Regions from separate parts of the Homo sapiens genome. Here regions 1 and 2 are each linked to region 3. Evidence: fine-mapped expression QTL. A gene starts in region 3. Each other region holds a variant in brackets. All regions are shown on one strand. Distances are from middle to middle. Region 1 overlaps CPQ (carboxypeptidase Q). Region 2 overlaps CPQ (carboxypeptidase Q). Region 3 holds the start of CPQ (carboxypeptidase Q).

Evidence for each region.
Region 1: its variant is fine-mapped to the expression of CPQ in Th1/17 cells (Schmiedel 2018, PIP 0.95).
Region 2: its variant is fine-mapped to the expression of CPQ in whole blood (INTERVAL, PIP 0.95).

The regions. Positions count from the first base shown.
Region 1 is chr8:96,933,124-96,943,554 of GRCh38, forward strand. The region is part of intron 4 of CPQ (carboxypeptidase Q); the gene reads left to right. Among named protein-coding and RNA genes, the nearest start is that of CPQ, 290 kb to the left of the region's middle. The variant G/A (reference allele first, on the strand shown) is at 5,495.
Region 2 is chr8:97,043,825-97,054,255 of GRCh38, forward strand. All of the region lies in intron 6 of CPQ (carboxypeptidase Q), which reads left to right. All of the region lies in intron 2 of LOC101927066 (a long non-coding RNA gene), which reads right to left. Among named protein-coding and RNA genes, the nearest start is that of TSPYL5, 230 kb to the right of the region's middle. The variant G/A (reference allele first, on the strand shown) is at 5,292.
Region 3 is chr8:96,640,327-96,650,757 of GRCh38, forward strand. It overlaps CPQ (carboxypeptidase Q), which reads left to right and starts at 4,916. Exons shown (of 8, transcript NM_016134.4): 1 at 4,916-5,076. RefSeq lists a silencer at 4,791-5,340.

The DNA of each region.
Region 1 (10,431 bases), 290 kb after region 3:
CATGGGGAATTGGTGATTTGAAAGGCCTGGCAGATGTTACACTCTTTTGCCATCTGTCTCTTGGAAGTAGCTTCAATTTGGCTTTCAGTAGGCCCCAGCAAGGTCATGAATATCAGATTTGGTGAGAAAACGCCAAGTGTGTAGCTTCAGTCAAAGGGAGACAGCTTTTCCCTTATGCTGCTCTTCTCAGCAGCCCAGGCCCATTTGTTCTTCCTCTGTGTGGAACTGGATGCTCCCTCCTGTAGTAAATGGTTAGAGGGTCCAGAATGAAATGGAAAGTGGTCCTGTATCATCAGCAGTAGCTTCTTGTGGACTTTGTCACCCTCATTCATTCAACAATTGTTTACTGAACAAGTAATTGACAAGACATTCTAACACCGACAAGTTGTGTTTAATTCAGAGGAGGAGACTGAACGCTGGTGTTTCCAAGGCACTAAATAAATGCTAAAACAGGGAGAGGAAGCACACAGGGCAGAGGAACACTTAGGAGGAGCACCATACTATTCTATGGTGTGGTGGTCAGCAAAAGCTTCCTGGGGGAAGTGACCTTATCTGTAAAATGAAATGGGATTAATACCCATGTTGCAAGATGGAGCCAATGTAAGGTAATGTCTTTAAGTTTCCTGCTGCTTGCTTAGTAATAGCAGTGATGACCATGTGGTATTGATGGTGATGACAGTGATAGAGAAGAAAAAAAAATGGCTTCACAACCAGATAGTCCGGTTTCAAATCCTAGCTCTTCTTGTCCTTAGCTCTGTGGCCTTGAGCAAATCACTTGGCTTCTCTGTGCCTCATCTATAAAATGCGAATAGTGCTACGTACCGCTACCACAACTGTAATGATTGCAGAAAATGTTCACAAGGAACCTAACAGTGCCTAGCACCTGGAAGGCATTCAGTAAGAGGTGAAAATGCAACAGGAGCTTGAAGAGAAGGTAGCAGTAGGAGCCATCAGTGGATATGGAGGGAAGAGCTCTGCATGTGGAGTCTAGGGACCTAGATTCTCATCTGACTATCACTGAGAAGCTGGGTGCCCTTGGGCATGTCATGTCTGGCATTCTCTGGAGTCTCCCATCAGTGCAGAGAGGCCCATCCATGAATCAGGTAATTTTTAAGTGAGAGAAACACACAACAAGCCTAGGATTAAGGATGGTAGAGAGATTACTGTGTGTTGCTATGGCATGGGAAGACTTTGTGGAGGAGAAAGCCCTCGGGCTGGATGCTGAAGGCCAAGTAGGTGTTAGACTGGGGGAGCTAAGTGAAGAGGGCATTCCAGGCAGGGGCATGATTGAGCAAAAGGGGCCAAGTCACGCATTAAGTATGTCAGCCGCTTCCCTCATCTCCTCACCTCTGGGGCAGCCTTACTCGTGGAGAAGAATGGATAATAGGAAGGTCTTGACTTCAGCTCAGAAGTTTGTTTCTTTGATAGTCAGGACTGGTTCTGGGAAAATTGTCAAGTCATTGAAGTTAGTCTGTGCGACCATTCATCTTAATGTGAGCAACCCACGTTTTTTGCCTGCACATTGCTGCCACCTGGGCTAAACAAGCCCCCCACTCCCACCCCACTTTGCAAGCCTACAAAATATGCCCTGTAGAGCAGCTCCTTTTTGATTCTTATTTCCACCCTCCAAAGCATACCCAGAAGCACAGTATGTCAAAGCTTAGAGGGAGCTCGGAGTTCATTATTTTAAGCCCCCTTATTTTATTATGAAGGGCCATACCCAAAGATAAGCACTTACGGGCAGAAAAGGAACAGAGACAGATCATCACGGTCTCCCAGTTGTGTTCTTTCTTCCACTATGCAGCCTACATTTCTCTCTACCATACATTTTGATTACTTAACCTAGGACATCAATACCTATGTATTAATCAGGACTCTTGGGATTTTAAACGTCAAACACCTAGAGAAACTTGTTTGATAAGCAGGGAAGTTATTGGCTTGTGTAACTGAAGAGTTTTGGTAGGGCTGAATCCAGGTTTCCAGAAGATGTCAGGTGTTTGCCTCTCCTTCACAAGGCTTAACTTTTCTCAGTGTGGCTTCATTCTCAGGCAAGCTGCCTACAAATAGTGTCCAAAAGGCCTTAATGGCAACAGGCTTATATCCTACAAATAGTGTCCAAAAGGCCTTAATGGCAACAGGCGTATATCCTACCATCTTGGCATCCCAAGAAACATAGAGAAATGTCTCTGGCATAGGTCCTAGATAGGGTTTTCATTAATTTGGCTTGAGACATGTGCCTACTTTCATTGTGATGGGGTTATAGAACTGTGATAGTCTTAAACTAGGTCAGGTACCCACCACTGAAACCAAGACTCAAGGTCAGTCTCACCCAAACCATGGATGACTGTGGGGAAGAGGAGGTTCCCAAGAGGTTACCAGGTTTCTGTTTCCAAAAGAGAGGGAAATAGATGTTAAGCTAGTATGTGTTCACTCACCCACACATCACCCTCACACAACCCACCACAAGCTGATAACAGTTTAAGGTATTGTATTCCTGATAGCATTAGCCTTTTGTGAAGGACTGTACGTGTTTTAGTTGAGTATAACATGGAAATTTGGGGTACCATGGAAAGGCCAGTGAGGGGGTTAGAGAAGGTGGAGATTTTGTATTTCAGGGTTTTTTAGGCTCCCTCAAATTATAGCACAAAATATCTACTTTGTGGCATAGCATAAAATACTTTACTTATAAATTCTGTCCTGATGATAGCCAGGAACTCAGCCTGAGATGAAAAGGTTTCCATTAGTGAACCACATGTAGACAATTGTAAGTTAATGCTAATTCATTATCCTCACACCTGGGCTTTCCAAATTTGTCTACCTCTTTTTTTTTTCTTAACCATGTATTGCTTATCTTTCTCATGAACATAACCAATGTCTTATGAGCCCAAGTCAAGTAGTGAACATCAGATAGGAAATTATAATTTTGTGTATATTCTTTCCCTCATTTTTGTGGCCTTTTTGTGTAGTTCTCTTGTGCCTGGAGAAAACTCAGGGTTTGTGTGTTAAGAATGAAGTGCTTGCATTCCCTCACCCAGATGCAGTGCAGCAATGGGGTACAGTGGGACCACATTGGAAGGAGGTAAGATTGGTGGCAGGTAGTTAAAAGGTAGCATTGTTTACTGTGGGTCTAATGCAGTATTTCTGGACTGAATGGAATGGAAGTTTTGCCTAACATCTTTTAGAAATTGTTTTCAGGTCTGTTTCAATTCCTAATGTTCTTTTATATAATTTCTGACTCATTTGCTTAATGGTTTCATTTGTGTTTAAAAAAGCAACATCAAACCTTCATTATTTACTTTCCGTGATGCTTTAAATACCACAGAATTCAGTAAGGCCATCAAAGAGACAGAGAGGCCAACATTAAACATTAATTTTTATTACTTTGGCAAAGAATTCTTGAGATAATTCAGCACAGAGGAACCAGTACAGGTCTCTGATAGCTGTACCAAGTGCTGATTAACTCAACCTCACAAAATCTCTTGCCTGTCAACAATTAGTGGAAACATACAGAAATATCTAAATATCCCAAAGATATTGGGGAGATATTTGGAAAGTATATGAAAACATTTAGAAACATCAGAAGTTTGAAAAACAAAGTTTTCCACATATATGAATGAGACTGGGGAAGGGAGTATGGTCTGTTTTCTTCTCACAATTTTATCACCCTGGCAGTTATTGGTGGAGAGAAGGTTCTCAGTAAGCATATGACGTATCTATTACTTTATCTTTACCTTGATTTCTCCATTCCCATAGCTTTAAAAGTCATTAGAGGAGATAAAACAGGGTCATTTATTTTGTATTGTCATATGTATGGATTTAGCAGCATGTGATATCTTTCCTTCCTTCCTTCCTTCCTCCCTCTCTCCTCCCTCTCTGGGTATTCCCTCCTTTCCTTCCTCCCTTTTTCTTTCCAGTATTTAATGACTCCTACTCTATGTCATTGTCTCTTATGACTGAGAGATGCATAAGGCTTAGTCTTGCCCTCAAAAAGCTTACAGTTTTTTGAGAGGTTACACACAAGTAAATGGGCAATTTCAATATAGTATAATAAATATTATGATAGAGGAAGTACACAGTGCCTTTGGGTCATTTAAGGAGAGCACTTAAACTCAGGGAATCAGGAAAGCCTTGTCAGGGGAAGTGCCATCTAATCTGAGTTTTGAAGGACAAGTTGAGTTAGCCAGAGCTAGTTTTCTATGGCTGAGTGGGCCAGATGGGAGGAGCCTGGACCTGAATTTAATCTCCCTGCTGGGGTAAGGCAGGTGTCGGTGGCCACCCCCAGCTTCAGGTGCTCAGATAGAGTCCAGTCCAGTAGTCATAGCATGGTAGCCAAAGGATTTTGCCTTGAGTTCATAATCAAGAAACGCCTCCAGGCCCTGGGGAGCAAGAGAGGAGATAGTAGTACTGGAAGTCTGCCAGACCTTAGACCTTAGGAGAGACACTTGTATGAACATGGTCAAGTGAAATTCTAGTGTCTGGAGACCATGACACAGCTCAGCCTGCACAGGGCTTGGGACGTGAGCTTTGTATGCACAGTGCAGTCCAGGATCCAGCCGACAGTCCAGTTGTTGCCTATACCCGCAGTCAATTGCCATGTTTTTTAGGAAGCCTCTGTCGAGCGACTCTAGAGGTGTTTCTCCCTTCCCTCTTATTACTAAACCTTACAGAAGCTAAGCTTGCTTCTAAGATATCTTTTAGGTTTAATATTCACAGGATTACAGTGTCTGCATTCCTTAGACGCTCCTATCATGCTGTGCTAGTCGGGCACTGTGCTAGGCACAGGGAATGTTGAGATAAAAGGAAGTTGGTTTGTTGTTTAAACTACCCAGATTGTGCATTGTTAAAAATTATTATTTTTTTGGAACTCTTAAAATTTTGTTTTGCCCAAAAAATTACATGACACTTTCCTCTTAGAAATAAGTTAGTTATATAATACAGAAATGTAAAGGCCAAAACATTAATATTTTCCTTCTTTAAATTCTAGCTTCTTTCACCAGCGTTAACAACTGATAACCTTCTCTTGTGTATCTTTTTAGTCCATTTTCTATGCTTGCATATCCATATATAATTGTATCAGTTGAGATTCCAGTAGGAAACAGATGGTACATTCAAATTAGAATAATTTAGACCGGGTGTGGTGGCTTATACCTGTAATTCCAGCACTTTGGAAGGCCAAGGTGGAAGAATCGCTTGAGGCTAGGAGTTTGAGGCTGCAATGAACTAGCATGGTGCCATTACACTCCAGTCTAGGTGACAGAGCAGGACCCTGGTCTCTAAACAACAACAGCAACAAAACCAAATTAGGATAATTGAGGTTTAGTTTAATAAAGGGACTATTTATATGATGTAGAGAGGGTATAGGGAAAGCACAGGGGATCATGATTATCAACCCTAAATCTGAAGGGGCACAGAGAGGAAGTGGTCATGGAAACCTGGACACAGAAAGGGTGCTGCAGAAAGGACCCTCTAATGGGCACTGAGACCTGTGATGGAG[G/A]GATGCAGCCAGTTCTTAGCAACCACAGGAAAGGGGCTGGGAATAAATGCACTCCTTCCTCTCTGCTTCTAAGCGCCCCCATTGACTGAACCCTATGGGAAGCCAAGGGAACAAGAAAACCTATTGATGTAGTCCATATAGGTCAGCCCCCTTAGCCAGAGAGCTGAGTGGAGAAAGGTGGAGAGTGGATCAGAGGGGCAAACAGAAGGTCTCCAGTACAAATACATACATAGCATATAGTTTTAGGAGCTTTTACTTTCTGTGCTTCCTTGTTACAGAAATGAGATTGTGCTGTAGTACGATTCTGGGACTTTTTGTTAACACAATTTGTCTTGAAGCCTTTTTGCATCAGTATGTATGGATCTAATTTAATTATTTTATTCATTGGCTGCTTAGTATTTCGTCATACAAGGTATCTGAACTTTTTAAAATTATGTATATGTAATAGTTGGTATATACAACAGAATATGTACCACCTATGTGAGTTATGAAGCCTAGCAATAAAACAGTCATCTGTAAATTTATCTCTCAACCTAAGATCACTAATACCATCGACCTTAGTCAATCAAACTACTTGACCTCAGATCATCAGGCAATCAGGCATTAGTTAGAATTACCTAAGGAGCATGCATGTGCAGTTCACAATAGGGTTTGGGTTTCTATGAGAATCTAATGCTGCCACTAATCTAACTGACAGGAGGCAGAGCTCAGGCAGTAATGCTCACTTCCTGTTGTGCGGCCATATTCCTAACAGGCCACAGACTGGTACCAGTATGCTAGCTGGGGGTTGGGGACCCCTGCTATACAGTCTTCCTGTGTCCCCTCACCCCGCCAATGCTAGTCTGAAGTTTTTTGTGTTAATTCTCTTATACTTTTTAAAAATAGTTTTTCCATATTATGAGTATGTTGAAACAATATATTATATAGTTACTTTTTAAAAAGCTTTATAAAATTGCCGTTTTAGTTGTACATAGTCTTTTACAATTTGCTTTTTTAACATAGCATTCATATTGCAGTGTGCAGCTGTGCTTCATTTATTTTCATAGCTTATAACACTCCATTGTGTGAATATGCCGCAATTCACCTCTCCATTCTACTGTTGATGGACTTTTGGGTCATTTCCAGTTTTTGCTGTTTCAAACAGTGCTGCTTATGAACATTTTTGTCCGTGTCTCCTGGCACATACATACAAGAGTTGCTCTAGGGTATATACCTAGGAGTGGAATTTCTGGGTCACGAGGTTTACACATACTTGGCTTTGCTAGGTAATGCCAAATTGTTTTCAATGGGATTATGCCAATTTACATTCCCATTAGAAGTATGTAAGAATTCTGGTTGTTCCTTTTCCTCCTTAGTGCATGGTATTTGCAGAAGGCTTAACTTTTTACCATCAATACTCTTTTCAGGGATACCAAGCAAAAACTTAATGAGAGTCTGACTCTGTTATCATAATAAATATTTTTCTACTTTTCTCTGTAAAAATGATTTTCTCTTTCTTGCCCTATTTTTTTTGCCTCATTGTTCCCTAAGTTTATGTCATCTACTAATAAATTATATTTAAAAATAATTAATACATTAAAACAAATCTGCCAAATGGGCCTTTCAATTCTTTCCAACTCTAAAATAAATGTAATTCTAGTAGAAATCCATATACAAATCATGGTTCATAAAACTGAAGGTTAACATTGCTACCATATGGAGAAGTTAGCTCACATACAAAAAGAGAAAACCATCAGTTCTCCAAATATTTCTTTTTACCAAATTTGACTTTAACAGCAAACTGGATTGTGTGTACTCTTGAAAGGAATAGTGCTCCATCTTGCTCTCCCTCTCTTTCTTCATCCTTCCTTAGTTTTGTTCTTTCTTTCTTTGCTTCTTTTATGTATTCATTCACTGATTCACTAAAACCCAGTGGAGAAGACAAATGAATTATTACTGTGTAGCCTGCAAATGGGATGATGAGGAATGGACAGATGTCTTTTGGAGTGAGAGAAGGAAACTTGACTTCTGTATTTCTTGAGTTCACTTCAGTTCTTAAGATAAAGTAGGTTCTACTGAGTATTTGCTAAATGAATGAACAAATCAATACTCTAAAATGTTTTCAGCTTTTTACTCATTGTAGTGTAGGAAGAGCTACATGGAGTTGAATTTCTATCAACTAGCCCATCTTTTATTACTGGAGTTAGTCTTCTTTGGTAATTTAATACTCAGAGTACCTCATATGATCTCTTTATCGATGCCTTCAGGAGACATTAAACGTTCTATCAATTAATTATACTTAAAAAGAATACCTTTTGGATTCATTCAAGCACTTCATCTTCTTTCCCCAAATCTTGGGAACTGGTGTCAGCTCCTTAAAATGAGCCAGCATGCTTTTTCACCCTCCCATATAAGTAAGAGCTTGTAATCACCCAGTGTTTCTCTGACCTAGAAAAGCTGAGAAATTCACATAAATGAAAACACAGGGGCTTACAAAATTGCTTTCGGCCCTCTCCCTTAGAAGCATATCTGGCACTTGGTAACTGGCTGGATGGAATGTGGGTACTACATGGAGTGCCCTGGTGCTGCTGCTGCTGCTGCTGCTGCTAGGCTTATATAACTTTGAAATCAGAAAGCAGATTCAGTGGGGTAGGGGAGAACTGCTTTTAACAAGCTGCTGGGATTGGCTGAACTTGTGCTGGCCTTGCACTCTTACTATTATAAACTTGATGTCTTTCTCATTTGTAAACTTTATTTGCATGCCAGAGCTCAGCTGAATTTGCCTGGGTTCCTAGTTTCTTTAATCTTTTGTCCTGACTGGCTTGCATGTAAATCAGCTTCAGACTTTCAGCTGCCCATATATTGCCCTAGTTTGCACTCTATAAAGAGTTCTTTCTTTGTAGGCTCCTGTCCAAAGCATGGCAGTATGTCTTAAAACTGTACAATATGGTTACTATTAGTAGTAATGAGTTGTTATTGAGTGTCAGTATGAGGTTGAGTAGATGGAGCAACCAAGGCAGCTTAGAACTGAGGGTTTCCCAGCTAACATGCTGTGGAACCCTGGAAAATTTGCCAAGCTCCTCCAGGTCTCCTATTCCATCCTGCCAGAGGTGATGTTTTTCTTTCCTGCTAGGTATGTCATGAATATAACTGAGAACCATGATTCTAAAACAATTAGAATGAAACTTTGTGATTTTATTTGATGAGATAAGCACTGTTTTCATATCTTTACATACATACTGCGTTGTTAAGTCCTATTGTCATAACCATGAATTAAATGTAGTCATTTTTATATTTTTAAATATAGCAATGCAAGAAAACTGAACTGATAGAGTGATAATAAGGCAGATAAGTGAAAGAGGAAGGTGTTTAGCCATTCAAGCTACTGCTGAAATAGTGAATCTCTTTAATGGTAATATATGAGCTGGAATGTTTATCCTTATCCTTTCCTCTAGAGAAGATTAATTTATTTGGCAATATCTAAATAACTGAGAATGGTATATTCCTCATTCATAACTTAGAGAAACAATTTGGCTACTTTTGTTGGCAGAACCTGAAATAGCATTGCCCTTCCAAAGACTGTTTAACTTGATTTCACAAGTAAACCACAAAATGCAATTATTTGATATTTTACCATATCCCATTCCCTTCTTTCATCCCCATAATGCAGGGGGCTGAGTTTGGATTTGCAAACCTTACTCCTTAGCCTAAGCCCTTACAATTGTTTGTATGTAATGCCAGATGCATGTTAAGGAAGGAATCCTATAGAGGCAGGTTACTTGGAGCGAAGTTTTCAGGGTGGCCAGCTCTGCCCAGTTGCCTTCTTTGGTCCCAGCGAGATTTGTAGTTTTGGTTTCTCTGTTTGAGGCTGGGTTGGGTGCAGGGACCAAGCAAATGAAAAACAGACCCTTGGGGTATAAAAGAGGTGAGACATAGGTCAAACAACCTATGGCTCCTCTAGCTGATACAGAAGATCCATCACCAACAACATAGGTTTATGGCTCAGTCCCATGACCTGGGTGGAATATCCGGAGCAGTTCTGGAAATATACCATCCATTATAATCATCTGAGTGCTTGATTAAAATGTATATTCCTTTAAACACAAACAACAAAAACAAAAACATGTAGATTCCTGGGACCCATGCTCAGATTCTGATTCACTAGATCTGGGGCGGGACCCAGGAGTCTGCACTGATGCAGATGTCACAGACAATTCTGATGCTGGTGCTCTAAGAGCCACACTTGGAAAAATTCAGTTTAGTGCCTCTTTGTCATTCTTCCCTTTGGCTCCTTGCCTTTATTTCAGGAAATAACTATGAATATGACTTTCAATGTCACCTCTAGGAGCTGCAGCCAGACATTCCTATGATGTACTTATAGCTAATCTAGTTGAGCTCCATTTGAGAGGATTCTAGATATATTACTTACTAGAGATCTGGCTTTCTAGAAGGCTCCCACTGGATCCAGGTAATGTCCAGTGGCTTGAACGATAGAAAGCTGGAGTCAGCAGCTGGCCTTCCAGACCCATACAAATCCTCTTTCTTTGGAAAGCCTCTAGCACTTCACTGTAAAATAACAGATAATCCCAGGCCAGAATTTTAATTAGAAAAGCTGAATGACCTGTAAGTAAATTATTAAGAATTTCAATATCAGCTAAGATCAATGGAACAGAACAGACAGCCCTGAGGTGCATCTGTAGATGCGTGTACACAATAATTAAGTTTGTTATAAAGATCCTATATACTATTTTCTCTGTATGTAATGGTGGGACCTATTTTCATACAATCCATAGATACAATTGAAATAATACAAATAATACAAATCATTGATAACTGACTACCATGGGTCAGGCCTTGTTCTGCACGATTTCTATATATTCTGCTAATACTCATAATAAGCAGCACTTTAAGTATTATTACTCTTCTCCTTTTATAGTTAAGAAACCAAGGCACAGGGA
Region 2 (10,431 bases), 400 kb after region 3:
GGCTTGTAGAGTTTCTGCCGAGAGATCCGCTGTTAGTCTTATGGGCTTCCCTTTGTGGGTAACCCGACCTTTCTCTCTGGCTGCCCTTAACATTTTTTCCTTCATTTCAACTTTGGTGAATTTGACAATTATATGTCTTGGAGTTGCTCTTCTCAAGGAGTATCTTTGTGGCGTTCTCTATATTTCCTGAATCTGAATGTTGGCCTGCCTTGCTAGATTGGGGAAGTTCTCCTGGATAATATCCTGCAGAGTGTTTTCCAACTTGGTTCCATTCTGCCTGTCACTTTCAGGTACACCAATCAGACGTAGATTTGGTCTTTTCACATAGTCCCCTATTTCTTGGAGGCTTTGTTTGTTTCTTTTTATTCTTTTTTCTCTAAAAATCCCTTCTCGCTTCATTTCATTCATTTCATCTTCCATCACTGATACCCTTTCTTCCAGTTGATTGCATCGGCTCCTGAGGCTTCTGCATTCTTCACGTAGTTCTTGAGCCTTGGCTTTCAGCTCCATCAGCTCCTTTAAGCACTTCTCTGTATTGGTCATTCTAGTTATACATTCGTCTAAATTTTTTTCAAAGTTTTTAGCTTCTTTGCCTTTGGTTTGAATTTCCTCCTGTAGCTCGGAGTAGTTTGATTGTCTGAAGCCTTCTTCTCTCAACTTGTCAAAGTCATTCTCCATCCAGCTTTGTTCCGTTGCTGGTGAGGAACTGCCTTCCTTTGGAGGACGAGAGGTGCTTTGCTTTTTAGAGTTTCCAGTTTTTCTGCTCTGTTTTTTCCCCATCTTTGTGGTTTTATCTACTTTTGTTCTTTGATGATGGTGATGTACAGATGGGTTTTTGGTGTGGATGTCCTTTCTGTTTGTTAGTTTTCCTTCTAACAGACAGGACCCTCAGCTGCAGGTCTGTTGGAGTTTGCTAGAGGTCCACTCCCGACCCTGTTTGCCTGGGTATCAGCAGCGGTGGCTGCAGAACAGCGGATTTTCGTGAACTGCGAATGCTGCTGTCTGATCCTTCCTCTGGAATTTTTGTCTCAGAGGAGTACCCGGCTGTGTGAGGTGTCAGTCTGCCCCTACTGGGGGGTGCCTCCCAGTTAGGCTGCTGGGGGGTCAGGGGTCAGGGACCCACTTGAGGAGGCAGTCTGCCCATTCTCAGATCTCCAGCTGCGTGCTGGGAGAACCACTGCTCTCTTCAAAGCTGTCAGACAGGGACATTTAAGTCTGCAGAGGTTACTGCTGTCTTTTTGTTTGTCTGTGCCCTGCCCCCAGAGGTGGAGCCTACAGAGGCAGGCAGGGCTCCTTGAGCTGTGGTGGGCTCCACCCAGTTCGAGCTTCCCGGCTGCTTTTTTTACCTAAGCAAGCCTGGGCAATGGTGGGCGCCCCTCCCCCAGCCTCGCTGCCGCCTTGCAGTTTGATCTCAGACTGCTGTGCTAGCAATCAGTGAGACTCCGTGGGCATAGTACCTTCCAAGCCATGTGCGGGATATAATCTCCTGGTGCGCCATTTTTTAAGCCCGTCGGAAAAGCGCAGCATTAGAGTGGGAGTGACCCGATTTTCCAGGTGCCGTCTGTCACCCCTTTCTTTGACTAGGAAAGGGAACTCCCTGACCCCTTGTGCTTCCCGAGTGAGGCAATGCCTCGCCCTCCTTCAGCTCGCGCACGACGCACTGCACCCACTGTCCTGCGCCCACTGTCTGGCACTCCCTAGTGAGATGAACCTGGTACCTCAGATGGAAATGCAGAAATCACCTGTCTTCTGCGTCGCTCATGCTGGGAGCTGTAGACCAGAGCTGTTCCTATTCAGCCATCTTGGCTCAGTATTTCTTTTTTAAACCTGAATTATTTTCTGGGAGAGAGGCTCTTCCCAAGTGACCCAAAGATCATTAGGTCTTTGGGTATTCAGTAGCCCTTCTGGAAGTTCATCTTCTACTTCTGGTTACTGTGATTTTCTGTGCTTCCACGACACTAACACGTAAACATCAAAGAGTGGTCTCTCTAAGACAGCTTGAGGAGTGCACGAGCAGAAGTACTGGCAGGGCTGTTCATAAAGCCAATGCCAGAAAGCAGCTCCTCGCTGGCACATCCACTTTGTACTTTGAGACGCAGTATCCAGAAGCCAGGATGGGCAATACCCAAACTATGTTACTTTAAGGGCTGAAGATCAGGCAGGGAACTGAGCCCCAGAATTGTTAGACATTGTTGTGAGTGCAAAGTGAGCACTTTTGTCTTTCTTTCTGCTACTCATCTTACTTGATCATTCCTGAGTATATTAACCAAATCCTGTGGTGTCTTAAAGATACCATGTGTGCCCTGAGAGGCTGGTCTCGGTCTAGCTTTCTGATTTCCTTATCAATTGGGTCACATCTGTATTTTCTGCTGACTCACTTATGTGTGTAAAAAACACAAAGGCATACTTTTTTTTTTCCTAAGCAGATCGGAACTTCTATTCCTTTTTTTTTTTTCCAGAAGACCTCTCTCGTGTACTCTCATCAAATGCTTGTCCTACATTTGTAATTATTCATTCTAGAAGCTGAGGTTGCCCCTAGCAACCAGCAGTTTTGTCTAAACTGTTTTGGTTTCAGGGTTGTCTTAAAGGAGAGTTTCTCAAAATCCATTTCCAAAGAGCTTTTATACCCCACACAGCAAAACATGTATAAACAACAATTCAAATTTAGGGAGCTTAACAAGGCCTTTCAACAAAGGTTTAAAGTGGTTTCATCATATGATTTATTTAAGATTAAACAGAATTTCTGTTACTAGTTAAAACGGGAGTGTAATTTGCTTTTATGGATTCCTATAGTTTCATTTAATAAAACTCATCCAATCAGATGCACTCCCTCCCCTGTGAAATCAGAGGCAGTGCCATATTTGTAAATGTGTTTCAGGCAACTCTCCAGGTAGTAACTGAGGGCTGGAAGAACGTACAGCATCCACCTGCCCTCACTGCCATAGCTGGCAGTGTTTTTTCCCCTCCAAAGCTCTGGAAAATACTTTATTATAACTCACAGAGCCAAATGAGAGGCAATCAAACTGTTTTGTCATTTGAATTAGGAAAGGTCAAAGGGAAAGGAACATAATAGTAGACAGACAGAAAAGTGCTTTGTGAAAATTACCCATTTTTTCCACGTAAGGAAAAGTAATTTGTTTTTTTTCAGTGCTAGAGATTTTTGTTTTGATAGATTTACAGAGAGAAAAGAAACCACCAAGAATTTTGAAAGGTCCCATTTCCCAAACAAATATGTAACAAGTTCTTACCATTTAAAAGATGGCATTATAATCTCTTGCATCTATGTGATCATTTATAAATTACGCTTTCGTGGACATCAAGTCATTGATGATAGTAATGACCCTGGTGGTTGCCAGACCATGTACTGTTTTCCTTATTTCACACATGAAGAAACAGAGGCTCAAAGAAGTGAAGAATGTACCCAAGTTTGCATAGCACAGCCCATAAGGTGCAGAGCCTGAACTTGGACTTCAGCCATGACTTCTATGACCACATACTTCTCTGTCACCATCTTAAATGTAGATATCTACTAATTTGTCATAAACTGAAGGACATACATAGCAGCATATTTAGGAATGCTGGATAATCAGTAACATATAAATAGATGAAAGGAGAAGTTGCTTCAAGGTGCTTAGTTTAAAACACATATAGCATGGTATCAATTCTATACAATGGCCAAAGGATATTGTGTAACCATGCAGACATCAGTTGTCACTAGTAATTCTCAATGTTTTATATTCACACTTTCTTGGTATAAAAATAAATATTTGTATTTGTTCACGAAGTTAATTCTATAAATCCTGCTACAATGAGTTTTAAAAAAATAACCAACAACACTTCACTTCAGTCATCTGTGTAATTTTCCTTTAGTTTGGGGCATTTTCTAGGTAAAGTTTTAGCTAAACAATACAGAAAAATTAAAAAGTTCAGAGATCTTTTAATGATATGAAAAACTGTTTCTAATAATAATAAATGTTAAAATCATTTCACTATTCAAAAGACTGCGTTCAGAGCGGAGGCACCCTAACATACTACTCTAGGACATTTCTCACTGCCTTCATCTTCAAATAAAAGTGAGAATAGAACCCTAACCTTTGAGAGATGGAAATAATGCATGTATATGTCTGTTTTTATATCTTTCCCATGTGTATAGAGCTTAGACACTCTATATGTGAAGACCCTCCAAAAATCAAGTCTGGCTTTCTTCTTTCAGGATAACCATTCCCGAAACACCAAGGACAGGGATACATCAGAATGGACCCCTACCTGTGCTATATTTAAAGATCTCCAAGGATAGAGATTTTACGTATGTCAGTATTTTTTAACACTATCAGACAATGAGAATATTCCTGGCCAGGTCCACTTAGTGATTTCTTCATTGAAGGATACAATTTAGAAGATTGGAGGAGCAATTATAAAAGAAAGTAATACAATTTAGAAGATTGGGGGAGCAATTATAAAGGAAAGTAGCTGTAGGTCTCCAAAAGTTAAAGTCCCTTAATCCCAGTTGCCTTAGTAGTTCTTGCATGAAAGCACTAAGGAAGGATCAATGACTGGGAGATGGGATGAATTCTGAATTGCAAAAGAGACATTTAAATATTACTTGCAAACTAAACTCAAAGCACAAATAATTTAACACTGTTTTGTTTTAGTTTCTAAAAAAGTGGACTCTAATTCATTCTTTCCTTGTTCAGGAGATAAAACTATTTGTAACCTTTAACATGTTCTTTTCTTCACAGTTGAGAGCTCAGTTTGTTAATACTTTCTTTCCCAAACTGTTTTCTGAATGTATTGGAAAACTGCACCTGCCAGAATGGATTGGTGTTTGTTCTTCTTCAATGAAAGGTGGCTGTGATCAGGAGCTGCCCCTTTTAGAGAGCTTAAGCTGCCAAAGCCTAATACAACAGAGGTGGAACGGAAAATGAGAATGAAGGACATATTCAAAAATTTAACAAATTGTTGGTGCCTCAGGCATGAAGCCCATTGGTTTCCAAAGAATTTGGCAGAAAGATTTCTATCTTCTCATCTTGTAGGCAATTACCTTAATATGGCACACTTTTGTGATGGCTTTCATTGAAAGGCTCTGTTTAAACATCTTTTTCTGAATCACCAAGATAAGAATGGAGCAAATGAAGGGAAAAAAAATATTCACTTGTACACAAAGCTGCTACCTTCAATTCTCTGAAATTGTAGTTAATGCCTAATTATACTGACATTCCTATTGTACAAAAGTGTTGAGAATGCAAATATAATTTCCCAGCTAATTATTTCATTACATGGAAGTGACATGA[G/A]TGAAGTAATAAATTAGCATCGTCTTTATAAGAACCAGCAATTCTGGACTTTATAATATTGAAATTTTCAAGTGGAGTGAAGTGCTTTTTTCTTATGACTACTCTGATTAGGTGAAAAATGCCTTTTAAATTTATGTGTATAATACACCTCCTTCCTTCAGCAGATATTTTACCATTAATATAGGACAGTGATATTTATGTGAGTACATTATTACTGAGAAGGAGACCCAAAGGATGTCAAAGGGCAGAGCTGCCAGCTGCGACAGTCTGGCTTGTACTGCTTTTCTTAAATGTGGTTCAAAGCAATCAGATTATGAATTGCAGTGAAATAAACTTACTTTTATTTTTAAAATACAACCACCATTAACAGCTCCCCAGTTAGAACAACTGAATGTCAAATAATTGCATTCTCAAATTTAAACTAGAAAATAGTAGAGCTTGAGGAAGGGGAGTGGAAACTCAATAGTGACACATTGAGATGGGTTAGAAGGTATTCAGTTCTCCATTTCTTTGATTTAAGGATCGTCAATTGTTAGTGGTGCGATTAAAATTAATACAAATTTTCAGGAAAAATAAAACTACATTAAATGCACAGGGGTTTTTAAACTGACAATATCATACAGTGCCCAACACTTTTGTTTTTAGAATCAATCCATGTCTAAAATACCTTCAATCCAGAGTCTGCAGATGTCTCTGAACCCTTTGGTCATTAGCAGTGAAGCATTGGCATTAAGGTGCCAGGCCACTTTGTGTCACCCATGCTCCTTGTTTTGACAAGGTGCTAAAGGTGTACCCTTGTGGTTGGCAGCCTATTACAAGGCATATTGAACACGTTTTTCCTCTGTACTTTCAATTTGGCCAAGTTTTTTACACTTAATTTTTAATTTTAATATTTCTGTAAGCCATATAGCTTCTCCTGAAACTCTAAGGGAGCTTTTGGCAAATTGCTTAGTACCTGAGTGGGAGGCCTCCATGATTCATGGCTGGCTACACCAGTCTTTGCTCACCTTGAACACTCTAGAGTCTATTCTGAAGATTTGGCGATTTCTATTGTTTTTCATTGTTTTGCCTCACACATGAAAATCAATCTTCTGTGTACATCAAAATATAATGAAGAATTTTAATCAATAATTATGGACTGTAATTTAAAATTTAATGATCTGTGTTGATACCAGTGTAAATAAGTGAAGTGTAAAATACATTATCCAGGGCCCTTTCTGTGTGATGAAGTTTGCATGTGGACAAACAATGACAATGAATATATGAATACAATACAATGAATATGTTTGTTTATTTGCCTAGAATTTGGTAACTTTCTTATGGAATGCATCAATAACAAGATACATTCCAATTTCCAAAATGCTAAAAAAGGAGAATACTGTGATTCTTACATTTAGGGAAATATGGTATTTTATCTTTTGAATTTTATACTGGCAGAAACAGGAGATGCAAAAAATCAGAAAAACAAGCCAGACGTGGTGGTGCACATCTGTAATCCCAGCTACTTGGGAGGCTGAGGCAGAAGGATTGCGTGAGCCCAGGGTTTGTGATCAGCCTGAGCAACGTAGCAAGACCCCATTTCAAAAAAATTAGAAAAATTGTGCTTAAGTAGCCTTTTGGTCCTGATTTGCTTGAGAGTCCAGCTTGTACCCATTGTCCTGACATAATCATTAATAGAATCCCTTTTCACTCTCAAAAGTTTCCTGGCCTACATAGCAACTTAAGTAATGGTTACTCTACTTATTAGTCACTTTTGTTGGTAATAACAATGCCTCGAGAGAACAGAATAGCTTGGTATATTATAGCCCTTCAAATAAATATATTAAATTTATATAATCCTCAGAACAACCCTATTAAATAGCCCTTTCTTTTTGATGAGGATATGAAGCTCAGTGAGATTAATGGTTGCCAGGGTCATTTAGCTATTATGTGACAGAACCAGTACTCCAACCCACAGGTCCAGGGCAAATTAATTCCATTGAGTTTAATAATAATAACACTATGAATGATCATCATAATCACCATTACTACCTTACTAATAAAGCTACCATTTGCCCAACAGAGGTTCTTGACCATTGCTGTGCCACAGGCCACTTTGGTAATCTGGTGAAACCTATGGACCTCTTTTCAAATAATATTTTTGAATGCATAAAATAAAATGCATAGTATTACAAGGATATGAATTTTATTAAAATATAGTTACCAAAAATTTTAAGCTAAATTTGCAATATAGTTATATATGTGGTTTTCCAAATGAATTAAACAAGATCTTGAAGGATTATTTAATTATGACTATGATATCAAAGTAATGATGAACATAAAGAATACTTAGAGATTTCTGCAACAAGTCTAATGTGATATGAAAAGATCTATGATTTCTACCAGCAACAAAGTGACAGGTTTTGCTAATACTACTGAAGTTTGTTGCTTACATTCATAAGTAAAGAAAATTCTAAATTTTACATAGAGGTTAGTAAAAATAAAGATGTAATTTTTTCCCATTCAAGTTCACAGAGCTCATCCAAGTGTATCAACCCCCAAGGGACCCCGATTAGGACTTGCTGCCTTGGAATAAACCTGCAAAACAACTATTATTCCCATTTTACAAATGAGTAAACTGAGGCTCAGAGTAATTAAGTAACTTGCCTAATATTATTTACCTTATGGCTGAGAAGTGCATCAAATGGCATTGGCACTTGTACATCACCTCCTTTTGCTCCCCAGTGGCAAGCACTATAGAGGTGGGTATTGTAGTGTCCACCCCTCTCTGAGACTGACAACCTTTTCAGCATGGTTGCCCTAGTCACTTGCACATCCTTTAAACACCAATGATGCCCTTGATGGAGAACACAGATATCCAAAGAGAAACTGGAGGAGAGGTCTGAGTGTCTGACTAATGCTTTTTATTCAACCCTCCTTGAGGATTTCTAGTGTTCAGTATCCCGTCAGTGGTCCTCACATGGCTCCCCAGAATGATCATTATTCCCGACATATTTGCTGCTATTTTCTACCATAGCTATTTTCCTCTTCTACCTTTAGGTGATTATTGCTGCTACTTATTACTATTCTCAGATGAAGGAAATTGTTTTTCTTCACCTCCCTTAGTTCAATACAGGTACCTATTTGGATTTTTTCAGTAATTGCTATAATTCCTTAGCCTCTCTTTATCTAAACTATACCCATTAAATTATGTTAACTCTTCTCAAAGCTAAATTGCCTCATCTGTTTATTATTTTCCTCATCTTGCCTGAATATTTTAAAACTTACAAAATATGTGAAGCGATTGTTAAAAATCTAAGTAGTCCCAGGACACATTTATTAGTTACTGTAATTGAGTCTTACTGATTACACATGCATTATAAGCCTCATGATGTGCTAACTTTAGCACAACAAAGATACAGTTTTAAAATATTATATATTTAATATTTTTTAAATTCTATGTTGTCAGTTCAGTTACTGTTGCTCATCTCCTTCTCCTCCTGAGTAATGGCCAAGTTATTTTGGTGAGTCTAACATATGGGAGTCTCATCTTTGATAGCAAAATGATGATGACATATAGTCTACTGAGAATATATTCAGCCCTGTTTTCACCTGAGAAGGAGGAGATTTTGCCACCTAGCCTCCAAAATAAGAGCATCTTATTCCATTATTGAAGGGACCTTTGAAGTTTCACTTGTATTTTGATAATTTATGGCCACTTCTTAAAAAATCACTATCACTCTATATATCCTCCTGGAAAGCATTTGTTTTAGCACTTATAATGGATGTTGTAAACATTTGTATATTATTAAGTGCTTTATAACATACACAGTAAAGATTCAGCTAATAACTTTAATTGTGGAACTGTAGGTTTTCTTGAGAACATTTTTTTAAAAAGGAAAACAGATTCTGAAAAACTGATGTTATTTTATCACCAACATGAGTAACCACATCATCATCATCAACATAATCATTATCTTCACCACCACCACCATCATCCAAAATGGCATCTAGTTACATGCTCGCATGGGTTCACATATACAAATATACACACATATGTGTTTAAACACACACATACATGCATATATTTATTCATTCAGTCAGCACATGTTTACTGAGAGCCTACTAAGTGCCAGGCAGTGTTTTGAGGTCTGCCCTCATCTTGCTTCCATTCTAGTGAATCAAGACTGATAATAAATTGGATAAATAAGTAAAATTGTATGTTAGATGAAAATAACTGCTAAGGAGAAAAATAAAACAGGGAGCAGAGATAGAGTACATGAGGAGGGGGCTGTTTTAATTTTTGATAGAGGGGAACAAGGCAGACTTTATGGAGGTGGTAATATTTGGTTAAGACCTGAAAGGATGAAGAGGAGAGCCACGTGGATACCTGGAGGAGAGCATTCTAGCGAAGATGGAGAGTTGTTCCAAAGGTGCTGCTGGAGGCCATGCTTGACATTCAGGGGATAGGGAGGAAGCCAATGTGCTTGAAATGGAGCAGTGAAAGGAAAGCAGTAGGACAAGAAGTCAATATAAAGAAGCCCAGGCAGAGTCAAGCCCCATGGGCCATTTTCTCTGAGTGAGGTTGGAACTATGGGAGGCTTTTGAGCATAGGAGAAACATGATCTGAATCAACTTTCTAAAATAATCATTCTGGCTGCTTGGTTGAGAACAGACTAAAGGGGAACCAGAATGGAAGAAAGATAATAGCCTAGGCAAGACAAGAGTGTAGTTTGGAACAAGATGATAGCTGTGGAAGGCATAGCAAGTTGTCAGGCTGCAGATAATATTTTAAGGAAGGAGCGAACAGAATCTGATGGTGGATTGCATATGGAGTATGAGAGAAATAGAGGAGTCAAGCATAAACTGACAGTTTGGGGCCCAAACAACTGAAATGAGGGGAGTTAGGCAGGGGGAAAAGGGGGAGATAAGGAGTATGGGTTTGAACCTGTTAAGTTTGAGATATCAGACTTTCATGTGGAGAGGTCAAGTAGGCAGTTTGGTAAAAAGTATAGAGTTCAATGAATTGACATTTCTCAAAAGAAGATATACAAATGGCCAACAAACATATGAAAAAATGTTCAACATCACTAATCATCAGGGAAATGCAAATAAAAACCACAATGAGATACCACCTTACCCCTGGGAGAATGGCCATTAT
Region 3 (10,431 bases):
TGGAGCTCCTTTAGGAGCTCTTGAAAGGCAGGCCTGGTGGTGATGAATTCCCTTAGCATATGCTTGTCTGAAAAGGATCTTATTTCTCCTTCACTTATGAAGCTTAGTTTGGCTGGATATAAAATTCTGTATTGAGAATTCTTTTCTTTAAGAATGTTGAATATTGGCCCCCAATCTCTTCTGGCTTGTAGGGTTTCCACTGATAGGTCCACCGTTAGTCTGATGGGTTTCACTTTGTAAGTAACTTGGCCCTTCTTTCTGAGTGCCTTTAACATTTTTTCTTTCATTTAGGCCTTGGAGAATCTGATGATTAGGTGTCTTTGGATTGATCTTCTTGTGGAGTATCTTACTGCAGTTCTCTGGATTTCCTGAATTTGAATGTTGGCCTGTCTTGCTAGGTTGGAGAAGTTCTCCTGGATGATATCCTGAACTATGTTTTTCAACTTGGTTTCATCCTCTTTGTCTCTTTCAGGTACCCCAATCAGTTGTAGGTTGTCTTTTTACATAATCCCATATTCTTGGATGTTTTGTTCATTCTTTTTTATTCTTTTTTGCTCTATTCTTGTCTGCTGGTCTTATTTCAGAAAGATAGTCTTCAAGCTCTGAGATTCTTTCCGCCACTTGGTCTATTCTGCTATTGATACTTGTGATTGCATTGTGAAGCTCTTGTGTTGTGTTTTTCAGCTCCATCAGGTCAGTTATATTCCTTTCTCACCTATTCTTGTTATCTGGCTATCAGCTCCAGTATTGTTTTATTATGTTTCTTAGCTTCTTTGCATTGGGTTACAACATGCTTCTTTAGCTCAGGAAAGTTCGTTGTTACCCACCTTCTGAAGCATACTTCTGTCAGTTCAGCCATCTCAGCCTCAGTCCAGTTCTGTGCCCTTGCTGGGGAGGGGTTGTGGTCATTTGCAGGAGAAAACGCACTCTGGCTTTTTGGGTTTTCAGCATTTTTGCGTTGATTCTTTCTCATCTTTGTGGGCTTATCTACCTTTAATCTTTGAGGTTGTTGACTTTGAATGAGGTTTTTGTGGGGTCTTTTTTGTTGATGGTGTTGTTGTTGTTTTGTTTGTTTTTCTCTTAACAGTCAGGCCACTTGACTGCTGCAGTTTGCTGGAGATCCGCTCCAGACCCCAGTTGCCTCACTTTTTCCTGTATCTGGAGGTATCACTAGTGAAGGCCACAAAACAGCAAAGATGGCAGCCAGCTTCTTCCTCTGGAAGCTTCATCTTGGGTGGTTTCTGATCTGTTGCCAGCCCTCATACACCTGCAGCAGGTGGTTAGAGACCCCCATTGGGAGGTTTCACCCAGTCAGGAGGAACGGGATTAGGGACCCACCCAAAGAAGTAGTCTGGCTGCTTTTTGTAGAGCAGGTGTGCTGTACTGGGAGTGGGGGTGGGTGGGGCCCTCATAGTCTGGACCACCTGTATTCTCCACAGCTGGTAGGCTGGATCAGCTGAGTCCACTGAACCATAAAGATGGTGGTTGTCCCTCTCCAAGGCAACCTGTCCCAGGGAGATATCAGAGCTCTCTCCATAGCGCCCTGGCTGGAGTGACTGAAGCTCCTGCAGGGAGGACCCACCCATGAGGAGGAATGGATTGGGGTCCCACTTAAAGAAGCAGTCTGGCTGCAATTTGGCAAGGCAGCTGTGCTACATTGTGGGGGACCCTTCCTTGTATGGTCCATCTGTATTATCCACAGCTGGCAGGCTTGAATGGCTGAGTCTACTGAACTGCAGAGATGATGGCCTCCCCTCCCTCCAGGAGCTCTGTCCCAGGGAGAGATCAGAGCTCTGTTCATAAAACAGTTGCTGGAGGGGCTTAAGGAGGTCCTCTCTAGCGAGGAGGAATGACTTGGGGTCCCGCTTACAGAAGCAGTCTGGCTGCTTTTTGGTAGGGCAGGTGTGCTGCATTGTAGCAGAGGGAACCCTTCCTAGTTTAGACCGTCTGTATTCTCCACATCCAGGAGGCTGCAGCAGCTGAGTCGGCTGAATCACAGAGACGGCAGCTGCCCCACCTGCTGGGAACTCAAACCTGTCTCAGGCAGACTCCTATCCACTGCCATTGGCTGGCTGGGATTCCAAGCTGGTGGGTCTTAACTTGTGGGGTGTCATGTAAGTGGGGCCTGAAGAATGGTATTGCTTGGCTCCCTGGATTCAGCCCCCTTCCTACAGATGGATTTCCTGCCTTGCTGATGATTGTGGCCAGAGTATGTAAAACTTCTGGGCCTCTTTGTATGTGCCTGAGTGGCTGCTCTGTCAAGACAACACACAGCTCTGTGTATCAGACTCAAGGCCCTGGTGGTGTGGAGTCATGAGGGGGTCTCTTGATCCACAGGTTGCAAAGATTCATGGGAGAAGCATGGTTTCCTGGGTTGCACAATCACTCACCACTTCCCTTGGCTGAGGGTGGAGGTTCCTTTGGCTCTGTGCTGCTCCGAGGTGGGCTCCCCACCCTGCCCAACTTTTCTTCATTCTCCATGGGCCGGTGGTTTGCCTAGTCAGTCCCAATGAGAGAACCTGGATATTTCAGTTGAAGGTACTGAATTCACTTGCCCCTTCTCATTCCTCCCTGAGTGCTGCGGGCAGGGGCTTCTAATTGGCCATTATGGATTGATCTCCCTGCAGTGAAGTGTTCTAAGTAGGAAGAACACATGGTATTGTGGAAAATCAACATAGCATGGTGGCTCAGAAATAGATTCTGGAGCCAGGCAGGTTGCTTGGTTTGGAATTCTGGTCCTGCAACTTACTGCAACCTCTCTATGCCTTAGTTTCCTCACAGTTTAAAGAGGGATAAAATAATATCTATAGGTCTATTTGCGAGGTTTTAAAATTCTTGGAATAGTACCTGGCTCATTATACATGCTATAGAAATGCTTATTCAATTAAATAAATAAAAGCATCTTTGGTAAGATAACTCTGAACATTGTATGGTTTAGTAGAGGATGCTGACAAGAATAAATAATTAAAACATATCATGAAGTAAGCATAAAAGATAGTGGTAATGCAAAGATGCGAATGAGCTCTGCTTCCTGTGATTAGTGTGAGCAGACAAATTCACTGTACTCAGAAGCTTAAAGCCTAGCGTGGGAAGCTGACATGAATGAAAACCAACGGGAAAAAATGTTAGAGTAGAGGTGTAAGCAAGAGTGATTAATTTCAACTTGAAAGCAAATGGGGGAGGTTTCACAGAGAGGGGCCCAGCATGTTGGTTGATTGCTTGGGCTCCAGAATCAGGCCAGCTCAGTTTAATGCTGACTTTGTACCTCACTGGTTTTGTGACTTGACCTCTCTAATCCTCCATCTCCTTATCTGTACAGTGGGGGGAAATAATAATGATAATAATAGGTAGCTCATAGGACAAATAAGAATTCACAGTTAATGCATCAAAAATCTTAGCACAAGGCACTCAATAAATGTGAAGCTTTTATTGTTATTACGAGTTGAAACTTGAGTGGGAAAGAACTTCGTTCACATTAAACATGAGAAAAGGCCCAGAAGTTGAAAAGCATTTGACATAATTAAAGAACAGCAAGTCAGTGCCACTTAAACGGTAATCCAACCACCGCCAGTCAGTGAACAGCTTTTTACTGCTCCATGAACAGGTAAGTATAGAAATTGTGAGTAAGCATTTAGAAATAAAAACAACAACAACAACCAATAATTGAAAAACTAATTTTATACTTTTTGGCATACTCATTGTACACTTGTAATAAAAACTGGGCTTGTAGTTTTTGTCTCTTTTCTTATTTGCTAGCAGGTTTTGATTTGTATTTTACAGAAATAATGGTCCATGTCAGATTGGAAATAATAAAAACTTGTCTTTTACCCTTGATAGTTTGAGAAAAAAGTAATTCAGTGGGGTTAGATATGGCATCCGAGAGATGATTCGGGAAAGGTGGGCCAGGGCCATGTTTATGTGGACCCTCCAATGCCTCAGAGTTCACACTTGTTTCAGTGGGCAACAGGACTAGTAAGGTTTAGAGGGACTGTTAACCGAAGGTGAGTGGACTTTGCACATTTTATGGTATTTTTTTTTTCCCAGTAGGCATGTGCTTATTCTTTCTTTTCTTTTCTAATTAAAAGTTCTGTTTGGTTTTTTTAGTTAAGAGGAGAGACTGGAACTGCTCAGTGTTTCACAAAGATAACTGTTTGTATTTGATAAGAGTTTCGTTAAACAAAGGAATTTGCACTTATCAAAACATAAAGCATTGAAAACACTGAGCACATACTCTGTGACCAGAATGCGTGTGACTTGTTGAGATAAGCCACACCGGGTAATCAGATGAGTCTCCTTTCTTCTTGGGCACCCTCATATAATTCAGGCACAAACGAAAGAGAAAACGCTTTTTCTGATCTCTCAGTTCGGGTCATCTCTGCCTTCCATCATCACCGCCTAACAATCCTACACCTGGCAGGGTGGGAAAACGGTTTAATAATCTCTTCCCTTTGGGAGGCGTTTGACAGCTCAGAAAGCATGGCCTTTACTCAGGCTCAGAGACACACAAAAACCTTTCACGTTTTCCTTTCAGCTTCGCAGCCCCGTCCTTCTCCACCTGCACGGGCACCCACTGAAGCACAGGACCCTTCTGCCAAGCCATGAGCCTTCTCAGGCCCCTGCCGCCCGCCTCGCCTGAGGCTGCGCTTCTGAAAAGCACGCGGCCCTGGCCTGCGCACCACCCAGTCTGAAGGCGACGCCCCTGCACGAAGGAGTCAGGCCTAGGGGCTCGGGACCCAGGGCGACACTCAATTTTCTAACAGGAGCCACAGCCCAGAAGCTGAGAAGCCTTCCGGCCGATCTGTGGCCCTGAGGTCGCCCTTGGAGGGCGAGTGAGAACCCCCCAGGCGTTCCGGAGGTGGCCCCCAGCCCGAACCCGGCGCCCGCCCCGGCTTCCCGAGTCAGGTCTTTGCCCCGCCTCTCGGCCCCGCGGCCTGGCCGGCAAGCAGGGCTGCAGTCACGGGGCGGCGCGGAGGGCCCCAGCCCAGTCAGGGGTGTGGCCGCCGCCACCGTAAGGCTAGGCCGCGAGCTTAGTCCTGGGAGCCGCCTCCGTCGCCGCCGTCAGAGCCGCCCTATCAGGTGTGTTTGCAGCCGAACTGGCAGTGCCCGCGGGCGGCTGGGCCGAGGCCTTGGCTCCTACCCGCGGGGGTCGGGCGGGCTGAGGCTGGAGCAGGCCAGGGGCGGGGGCAGAGGGGGACGGACTTCCAGCATCGCTCATTCGGGGGCGTGACGGGAGGACCTGGCTGGGGAGCGGCGGGTTGGGAGCCTGTGGCTGCCCCTTCGGTGACAGTGGAGTCACCGAGCCTAGAAATGGGGAAGCTGTGACGTGGGGGTGGTGGAGGGTGCTGCGGGACAGCAGCGAGCACGGCCCTCAGCCGTCCTTCCCAACACGGTTTCACTTCCCCTCAGCTCCAGGGCTCAGCCCCAAGCCGCCCCCTTCATCCCCCATCTGCAAACAATCCTGGTCCCCCTGAGCCTCCAATATGCCTTATGCAGTTCTTTTGGGGTTCCTTTCGCATTTTACCGTGTACTTTCGCTTTTGATGCGTCTAGTTTCTGCTACTGGACTCTCCTAGAATCGAAGTTCCATGAGGGCAAAGTCCCATCTGACTTAGGACTCAGAGCTACTCAATAAGTAATTGAATGAGTACCTATGCCGTAGAACTGAGTGAATTAACAAATGAGTAAGTGAATAAATGAGTGCATACGAGATACAGCTGAATCAATCAGTGCATGAGTGAAAATAAAGATGTATGAAGTGGAAGCAGTGGAGACGCAGGCTTACAACTCCTGTTTTTTGATAGCTTTCCAAAAAGTTGTGTGAATGTCGCACTTTTGCAAATGGAGGCATTCTGATTGGGACCACTTAAAAAGAGTTCTATGCTGTTCAAATGGTCTCTGGAAACGCCCCCTGGTATTTCCATTTTTGTTGGACTTGGCTATATGTGTTTGCTTAAAACAAAATATGCCTAGGTTTTTTCTTGCTTGTGTTTTGTTCACTTCTACTTTGGACGTTTAAAGAATCATTGTCACTATAATATTATTTCATGTATTTCTTAAAGATAAGGGTGACTCTGAAGGCAGAACCATATGACTCTGACTTGTTTGTAAAACCAGGCTTTTCTTTTGAATTCAGAGTTGTTAAGAATCTTGTCTGTTTTCCTGAGACAGGTGCTGGCTGATTTGCAGGTGACTGAAGAAGGCTACATAAGGCCCAGAAAGACGCTTATCTGTTTGTAAACAAATAGGCTTAGCACATAGCTTTAATACAGTTGGTCACTGCAGCCGTTCTTACTTGCCAGGTCCAGGTTCCAGAAGAGCTGGATGACCTTGGACTTGCCACTTGATCTCTTTAGGTTTTAATTTCTTAATCTCCAAAATGAAGATGTTTAGCTAGGAACCCTGCCTGAGTTAAACCTCTGGGATTCTTTTGTATCAGGGTTAGAAGGTGAAATTACAGATGATTTCATGGAGTTCTGCTTACTTCACCTCCCATAGCATTTTGTCTCTGCTCTCTTCTTTGCTGTTTACAGCTCATTTCCTTTCTTCTCCACATCTGCAACAAGAAAGCCTGGGAGCTCAAGATAAGTGTAATAAACCCTAGGCTGGTGGGGAGAAAGGAGGGTAAGATTTTCTTCTACATTGTCACAGGCTCCTGGTCCTGGGTCTGACTTTTTTCCAGTGCAACCCAGTCTGACAATGCCATATATTCCCAGTATATCTGGGGAACTGCATCACTATTTCTTCGCATGCATTTGAGATTAGTTATCATAGATCACATTTTGGAGCTGGAAGGACCTTGGAGATTTTTTAAAGGCACTTCAAAAGTCATTATACATACATATTTAAATATTTTTGCATGCTACATTTAACAAACACAAAGTTCCAAATGTGTTAAGTAAAATGAAATTAATGTTACCTACTTCAGTGAATTCAAGTTTATAAGGAGAAGTGGAATACACATGTTGCTTGGTGAAAAGGGCCAACTTTCTCACACTGTTTTCCCAATGAGGTCATGTGTCATACAGGCATGGAATGTTACAAAGCTGATATTTATGGGGCACTGACCATACACCAGGCACTGTTATATTTAACCTTTTTACTTATATTGCCCCATTTAATCATCACTATATATCTAAGAGCTAGATACTATGGTAAGTCCTATTTGATCTTCTTAACTAGAAACAGTACATGGAAAATGGGAGAGTTAGGACTCAAAACTCAAGCAGATGGAAACAGGGTTTCTCCCAGAAACAAGACAATCCTGCCAGGAAAAACTGTGTGACTTTGAAGAATGTGGTCTCTGTGTGTGTTCAAGCATATATACAAACCCTGGGTTATTTGGGTAAATGAATTTAGAATGAGAGCACAGGGTGAAATGATGAAGACTGAATTATAGGGGAGTTGGTTGTTTTATCATTTTGAAAATTATTGAATTCCATTGAGATTCCAGGAGACTCTGATACTTTGACCTAGGTGCCCATGCATCTTAATTTTAAATGTGTTCAGACTTACCAATTTAGGGAATATAAAATGAGTGACATCGACAGCTGCCATCAGTGAATGGCACTTAAGGGCTTTGAACCATGAGTGCTAAGCAGTGTTGTTTCTTGGACTAGCTTTGTGCCCTTGGTAAGGCACTGCCTCCCAACCTCTTTCTTTATAAGACCAACAACCCCTAGTATAGACAAAGAACAATGCCTACATCTGTGTAATCCAGAGACAAGAATGCAGGATGGGTTTCCAGAACCCTTATAATTAATTGAAGAGAGCAAAAGACGAAAAGAGAGGCCCATAAAATAAATGGGAAATTATTTTGTTTCTTTTTCGTCAGCCAAGTTTAGCCCCATGGAAAGCAGAGACCAGTTGTGGCCGCCTGAAAAACTAAGAGCTGATGCCAGTTTGATTTAGCTCAGGAGGCTGAAACTTTCTGCCCCGAAGGCTGGTGTGATGGAATAGACCTTCCCATTGCTCACAATATTATGAAAAAAACATTAAAGCAACAATTTTTATTACTTGCCCTGCAGCTAGAGCTTTAAAATGTACTTTCTTCTCCCCTACCCTCCCTAAACCACTTAGCTTTTAAAAACAAACAACCCATTCATGTGTTTGTTACAGTCACATTATTAGTTCTTTCTCTTTATTCCTGGGCCCTTTTCTTTAATGCAGCAAAGTATTTGGAGGGATGTACTTGTGGATCTGTGGAATTTTACTTTATTTTATTCAGAAAATATTAATTTCAATAACCATTTATTGAGTGTATACTATGTGACAGGTAAAGATGAATGAGAACAAATCTAAATAGGAGAGTGACCCATCTGCAAACAATTGCACCACAGGGTAATGTGGAAGTAGTGGCCACTCACTCTTCCAGGAAAGAGGTATGATTGGAACTCAGGAAGACTTTGCAGAGAAGGTGAATTTTGAACTGTGTTTTAAAGCCTAAAGACCAAGCAGAGGGAGAAGGGTATTCCAAGAATGGAGAACAACAAGAGCAAGGAAAAGGAGGCAAGTATGAACATGGCATTCTTCAGGAGATGGGAGTTCAGTGTGGCTGTGGTAGGGAGGTGTGGTAAGGTTAGGGCCAGACAGTGATGGTCCTTGAATGTCATGTTATTTAAACTTTATCACAGTCTAGATAATCCTTTTCAGCATTATTTTTGTTTTGTTTTGTTTTGAGGCAAGGCCTCTCTCTGTCACCCAGGCTGGAGTGCCGTGGCAAGATCTCACTGCGACTTCCGCCTCCCGGTTCAAGTGATTCTCCTGCCTCAGCCTCCCAAGTAGCTGGGACTACAGGCACACACCACTACAGCCTGGCTAATTTTTTTATTTTTAGTAGAGACGGGACTTTGCCATGTGGGCCAGGTTGATCTCGACCTTCTGGCTTCAAGCTATCTGCCTGCCTTGGCCTCCCAAAGTGTTGGGATTACAGGCATGAGCCACTGTGCCTGGCTCTTTTCAGCATTTTTAAGCTGAATTTTAAACAGAGGAATGATATGATTGGATTTTCCTTAGAAAATAGCTACAGTAATAATGTTTCAGAAGAATTGGGGAAGGAAGAGCCAGAAGGCCACAGGAAAATGAAGATGCTATTGCCATAGGTCTAATGAAATAGGATAAGGATCTAAACTAAGATAGGTTTGAGAGACTATTTGAAGACAGAGCAGGATTAATGACTAGCTGGAGCTGGATATGGGAAATATGTTTGAAAATAATCTGAGGTTTTGGAATTGCTTAACTGGGTGAGTGGAGATGCCACTAATGAGGGTAAGAAATATAAGGTGAGGAAGAAGTTTCGGGAGAAAGACGGTGAGTGAGCAGAGGTAGCTGTGGAACATCTGGGTGGAGATCCCAGGATATAGCCTTTTCTGTAGCTGTGCTGTGATGTCACACAGTCAAGACCTTGGCCAAACATTACAATAGGGCCTCAGTCTAAAAAGACACATCAATTTAATAACTCACTTAAAAAATACATCATACTTATCTAATGACCATTACATTATATTTCAGGCAAGTTATTAGAGAACTCTGATTCTTATGTAAGTGCCAGTGAAGGAAAAAAGATTGGAGACTCAAACAATGAGGAGTTATTATAAGCTGCCAGGAGAAACTGAAAAAGAGAAATACAGACCAGAGTCATTCAAAGGAACAAAGATAAGGAAATGGCAGGAGTGTTGCAGAAAGCAGTGGTTTCTGAAGACACAGGTATAGGCAGATATGAAATACAGAGAAGAAATTTGAGCTGGCGCTTCCAAATAACTGTACTTCTTTAATGGTAAGATATCCCAAGCTTTGATTTCTCATCTTATTCAGTTTGTCAGGAAGAGACAAACAGGTGTGGGTGCTGGGCAGAGGGCTTGATCTCATTTTGCAGAGAAAGTGTTTGGAGACTTTGAACTAAGCAAAGAGTAACAGGGAAAATAAGATAAAAATGAAAAGGGTAATGATTCGGAGAAATTTTTCAGAGAATTTAAGGAATTCTATGACAAACAGGTGTTAAAGAAAAAGGCAGATCAACGCAGTGTTCTCTTGATATAGTGGTATTAGACTTCCTTGGAAAAAAGATTCGCATAGCGCCTTATATTTAAAAAGCAATTTTATATTTGATTGTTACAAGAACCTAGGAAGCAGGTGCAGCCAGGCATTATTATCTTTCTTTTATAAACTTAAAATCTGGCATGAAGGAGGCTGCAGTTTGTTTCATGGCTCAGACGGCTCAGATCCCATGGCTGGCAGGGACTCAGAGCCTTCTGACTTTGGGTCCATTGCTTTGTCCATTGTATCAACGCCTTGCCTTACCTTGGAACCTTGGCCTTCTGCAGTGTGCCTCCTTCCCTTATCATATCATATCACATAAATGTAAAAGTAAAGCAGATGGTATTTGAAGACCAAAAGAGCCAAGATCTCTGGGGAGACAGGCAGTGATGTGAAAGGA